Linked DNA regions of Homo sapiens: region 1 is linked to region 2. Evidence: fine-mapped expression QTL. A gene starts in region 2. The other region holds a variant in brackets. All regions are shown on one strand. Distances are between the middles of the regions.

What was found. PIP is the estimated chance that this variant, and not a neighbour inherited with it, causes the effect. A credible set is the group of variants that fine-mapping cannot tell apart.
Region 1: its variant is the best candidate, but not a certain one, in a credible set for the expression of KCNF1 in cerebellum (GTEx, PIP 0.86).

What each region holds. Positions count from the first base shown.
Region 1 is chr2:10,961,818-10,964,726 of GRCh38, forward strand. No RefSeq gene overlaps it. Among named protein-coding and RNA genes, the nearest start is that of KCNF1, 51 kb to the left of the region's middle. The variant C/T (reference allele first, on the strand shown) is at 1,466.
Region 2 is chr2:10,910,603-10,913,511 of GRCh38, forward strand. KCNF1 (potassium voltage-gated channel modifier subfamily F member 1) reads left to right here and starts at 1,332. Exons shown (of 1, transcript NM_002236.5): 1 at 1,332-2,909. The coding sequence starts at 1,825.

The DNA of each region.
Region 1 (2,909 bases), 51 kb after region 2:
AGCCCCCGTGCGTGAACAGCTAAGGTTTTATTCCCGTTTACTAAAGAGGTCATGGAGGGTCAGAGAAGTTAAATGACTTGTCCAATATCAAGAAGCTGTCACCTGAAGAGGTTGGATGGGCAATGGGGAAGGGACGCTCAAGGCCATCATTCCCAGGACCTTCCCTGTCGTCTTCCTGTGAACCCCGGCCACGCAAAGGGATCTCGCCCAGCCTTTCCAAAAGAGCCCCAGGCTTCGGACTACACGATTCCCCTCACAGCCACAGCTGACGAAGAGCTCCCAAGGTCCCAGCAATCTATGACACAGCTGCTGGGAAACTGCCCCCCCACACCTCCTCCAACCACGAAGCAGGCTGCATGCAGGTTCCCTCCCTCCAGAATGTGACCGTGGAACCCCCATCGAGAGAGGGAATCACAGCCTTGGTGGGAAGCGGAGAGAAACCAAGCAGAGTCAAGGCACGGGGTGGAGTTGGGACAAGCAAAAGCGGAAATTGTGATGGCAGCAGCCTGGGGACCACAGAAGGGCAGACCTGCACTGCAGCGTCACTGAGGAGCAGGGGATCCCGGCCCCTGCTGTAGACGCTGGGAGCGAGGTCCCAGCACCACTGCTGGTCCTGCCTCTGGGGTGCGACCTGTGTAGCCCCATAGGCCACCTCGCTTGGCTTAAGACTCTGCCATTGCCATCCTGAAACTCTTTACAGTTTTTGAACAAAGGACTCCACATTTTCATTAGCTGTGCTTCACAATTTATGATTTATGGCTATACCCCTATTAAAATTATGTTTTCAAAAATTATTACTGAGGCAAAATTCACATAACAAAATGTACCATTTGAACCATTTTAAAGTGTACACTTCAGTGCGTTTCAGTGCAGTCATAGATGTTGTGCCACCATGATCAATATCTGATTCTGGAATATTTTCATCAACCCATAAAGAAACTACCGTCCGTGAAGCAGTCACTCCCCATCCTCCCCTACCCCCACACCCCGACAACCATGAATCTCCTTCCTGTTCTATGGATCGACCTATTCTGGACATTTTATATAAGTGGAATTACACAACATGCGAGCTTTTGTGCCTGGCTTCTTTCACTTAGCATGGTGTGTTCGGGGTCCATGCGAGTTGCAGCATGTATCAATATCCATTCCTTTTCATAGCTGAATAAGATTCCATGGCATGGATAAACCACATATTGTTTAACCTTCCATCAGTCCATGAACATTTGCCTTGTTTCTATTTTTTTGGCTATTGTGAATAATGCTGCTGTGAACGCACAGATACAAGTGTGTGCTTGGACATATCTTTTCATCTCTTGGAAATTCACCGAGGAGTGGAATTGCTGGGTCATATGGTAGCTCTGTGTTCAACTTTTTCTTTCCAGAACAGGAATGGAAGTTTATTTATAAAGCTTTAGAACAGGAAAGAGGAAGATGCGCTTGGCAGGGATCCAAGTAGGCGCCAAGG[C/T]CCAAGAGAGAAAAGAAGAGAGAAAAAAGAGAGCTGTGTTCAACTTTGTGAGGAGCTGCCAGGCTGTTTTCCCCAGCAGCCGCACGCGTTACATTCCCACCAGCACTGTATGAGAGTTCCAATTCCCCACATCCTTGCCAACACCCATCTTCTGTCGTTTTGATTTTAGCTCTCCTAGTGGGTGTGCAGTGGTATCTTGTCGTGGTTTTGGTTTACATTTCCTAATGACTAATGATGTTGAGCATCTATTCACGTGCTTATTGGCCATTTGTGTCTTCTTTGGGAAAACATGCATTAAAGTTCTTTGCCTGTTTTTGAATTGGGTTATTTGTCTTTTCGTTGCTGACTTGCATCTCTGGGTTTTGGATTCCCCCATGAGGTTCCATCTCCCTTATTCCCCCATCCAGACCCTCACAATGGTCCACTCTCTCACCCTAAAAAGAACACAGATACAGACGTTTTACCATTTCTGCCTTCCTTCTTCTAACCCCCTAAATAGGTGCTAGTTCCTCTTCTGGGTTTTTAATTTAGGCAATCATTATTTCCCACCCAGATACTTCCCTTGGGGCAACGCTGCCCTGGCACACTGGATATTTGGGACTATTTTAAATATATCCATTAAACCTTAGCCAATTAGCATAATTCTGAGACTTCTTCCTCATTGGAATGAAAGGGAGACATTTGCCCCACGCAGCCAGGGACTCATTGAGAAACTCACCAGCAAGGGGCCATTCACAGGGCACTTCCCAGAGGAGGGAAAGTCATGGAAATGAACAGGACACCAGACACTAAGAGGTGATTCCCTTTCTTCTTAAACCTAACACAGTGCATTTTGTACTTTGAAGATTTCCAGCACTTCCAACAAGGAATAAAACAGACGGATTATAGTCCAGTTTACACTAAGTTCCTGGCAAACACGAAGAACATGTGATTTATTCTGACCAAGCGCAACAGGGAGTTTTTTTAGCAGGACTCCCTGAGACCTCGCAGAGGCTGAGAGACCATCCACTCCCCGCTCTGCTGGGTTGTAGCAACTCGGTCCATTCAGATGAAACACACACAATTCGTCATTAACTCATTCTTTCTGCATTTTTGCTCATATAAAAAAAGTCTCTTCCAGCTGTGGCAGATGCTGGAAAAGAAGAAATATAATCAACAAACTTCTGTTGCAGTTCAGGTCAGGACTAAACACCAAAGTGCCAGGGGAAATGGGTTTTGCGACCCAGCTCCCTCCCCGCTGGGTGGGGACCTCTGCTGTGCGTTCTGGAGGAGTTCCCAGAGTCCTAGAGGGATGAAGCTTCAGTTGCTCACAGTGGTGACTTGCTCGGTGACACCCCATGACCGGCTGTCCTCCCCTCCCTTCTCACTTCCTCTCACCCCTTCTGTTTCCTGGGATCACTTCCCAAATGATTTACCTGCCCCCATCCTTGTCTCAGGGTTTGCT
Region 2 (2,909 bases):
TGTCAGTGACCCAGTAAATTGATTTCATAATCCATTAACGGACATGTCCTTAAGTTTTAAAAAACCCAGCCTACAGAATACATTTTTAAATAGACTTTATATTTTAGAGCACAATTCAACAGAAAGTACAGAGAATTCCCACATGCCCCCTGTCTCCACAGCTCTCCCCTGCGCATCAACATCTCACACAGGGTGGGACACTTGTCATGGTGGACCACCCCACATGGACACGTCATCATCGCCCAGCACCGAGTTTGCATTAACATTCGCTCCTGGTGGTGAACATTCTATGGATTTTGACCATTGCATAACGACACATATCCGCCATTATGGTACGTTTCACTGCCCTAAAAATCCTCTGCTCTGCCTATTCATTCTTCCCTCCAGAATATTTTTAACACGATCTCGAGGCCATAGATGATATCAGTAATTTGCAGTATTGATGATAGTGGTGAACCGGAGGAGAGAGACACTGTTAGGAAGCTGCTGTAGTGGTTCAGGTGAGTGAGGACAGAAGGACAGCTGTGGCTGCAAAGGCTGGAAGAGAGGAGGGTGTGGGACACTGGTCAGGAAGAGACAGGCCTTGGTCAAGGAGTGAGGAACGGGGAAGCAGGAGCCACTGGACCCTAGGGGTCTGGAAGCTAGTGGCCTTGGTGTGGGACTGCAGAGAGATAGGAGGTGCCAGACGGCAGGGACTTCAAGGCAGAATTGAAATCTGCTGAACAGCAGGCGTCGGTCAGCTGGGACAGCCGGAAAGCTCGGGATCAGGAGGCGGTCAAGCTGAGCTCTGCTCTCATTCCGCCGCGTGACCTTGGGCAAGTCCCTTCCCTTCTACAGGAGGCTGGACTAGATGTCCTCCTTGTACAGCGTTGCGGGGAAGGTGAGACAGTGCCACCAACACAGCAGGGCATTGCTGGGTCGGGGGGATGGGGCAGGAAACGCTTCAAGGATCAGGCAGGATTTTCCTCCCACCAGGAAAAGCCGGCGCGGGTCTAAGGCCGGAGGAGGGACCCAGACATAGGAGTCACCTTCTAAGGGGCTTCCTGGAGCACATTTTCCTGCCCAGCAACAGGCGGCAGCATTCTCTCCCCACTAATCCTCTCCAAACAGCAGTGAGAGAGAATGCCTGCCGCTTCAAGCCAGGTCGCAACCCCTCGGTGACCCGCTGCGCCCGAGGAGGGGCCGGCGGTGCGCGGTGGTGGCGGCGGGCGCGGCAGCTGTGCCCGTCTGCCCAAGGGTTAATCCGTCCCCTGCAGCTGCCGCGCGTGCCTTGCAGAATTTCACCAGAAGAGGGTACAGTTTGAAAAGCTCCTGACGTCAGGCTGGAATTCCTATTGTGTTTAGAAAAGGCTCGGGCAAAGCCAGCCCAAGTTCGCTCTCTGCACACCTCGAGCACCTCGCGGACGGCGTGGGTCCGCCAGCTCCGGGACCTGCCGCCGCTGCCTGCGCGCCCCGGGGCGGAGGACGGTGCCAGCCGCCCACGAGGAGACCCCGCTCCCGCAGGAGGCCGAGCTGAAGCGGCGGAGCGCGCCGCCAGCCAGCCGGGGTGAGTGCCCCGGGCGAGGCCGGCGGCCGCCAAAGCCCCCGCGGGCTCGCCCGGGCGCCCGGATGCCAGCCCCGAGCCCCGCCGCCGGGTGCATGCCTCCCCCGCGGCGCGCCCCCGCAGGCTGCTGCCCGCTGTGACCGCCCTTCCCCGCAGGCGGGCGCCGGCCAGGCTCTCCCCGAGATCAGCGCACGGGTGGCACCCGCCGGACCCCCAGCGGCAGCGGCGGCGGCGGCTGCAGGGGGCGCGGGGCGGAGGCTGCGAGGGCGCGCGCGGGGAGGATGGACGGGTCCGGGGAGCGCAGCCTCCCGGAGCCGGGCAGCCAGAGCTCCGCTGCCAGCGACGACATAGAGATAGTCGTCAACGTGGGGGGCGTGCGGCAGGTGCTGTACGGGGACCTCCTCAGTCAGTACCCTGAGACCCGGCTGGCGGAGCTCATCAACTGCTTGGCTGGGGGCTACGACACCATCTTCTCCCTGTGCGACGACTACGACCCCGGCAAGCGCGAGTTCTACTTTGACAGGGACCCGGACGCCTTCAAGTGTGTCATCGAGGTGTACTATTTCGGGGAGGTCCACATGAAGAAGGGCATCTGCCCCATCTGCTTCAAGAACGAGATGGACTTCTGGAAGGTGGACCTCAAGTTCCTGGACGACTGTTGCAAGAGCCACCTGAGCGAGAAGCGCGAGGAGCTGGAGGAGATCGCGCGCCGCGTGCAGCTCATCCTGGACGACCTGGGCGTGGACGCAGCCGAGGGCCGCTGGCGCCGCTGCCAGAAGTGCGTCTGGAAGTTCCTGGAGAAGCCCGAGTCGTCGTGCCCGGCGCGGGTGGTGGCCGTGCTCTCCTTCCTGCTCATCCTCGTCTCGTCCGTGGTCATGTGCATGGGCACCATCCCCGAGCTGCAGGTGCTGGACGCCGAGGGCAACCGCGTGGAGCACCCGACGCTGGAGAACGTGGAGACGGCGTGCATTGGCTGGTTCACCCTGGAGTACCTGCTGCGCCTCTTCTCGTCACCCAACAAGCTGCACTTCGCGCTGTCCTTCATGAACATTGTGGACGTGCTGGCCATCCTCCCCTTCTACGTGAGCCTCACGCTCACGCACCTGGGTGCCCGCATGATGGAGCTGACCAACGTGCAGCAGGCCGTGCAGGCGCTGCGGATCATGCGCATCGCGCGCATCTTCAAGCTGGCCCGCCACTCCTCGGGCCTGCAGACCCTCACCTATGCCCTCAAGCGCAGCTTCAAGGAACTGGGGCTGCTGCTCATGTACCTGGCAGTGGGTATCTTCGTCTTCTCTGCCCTGGGCTACACCATGGAGCAGAGCCATCCAGAGACCCTGTTTAAGAGCATCCCCCAGTCCTTCTG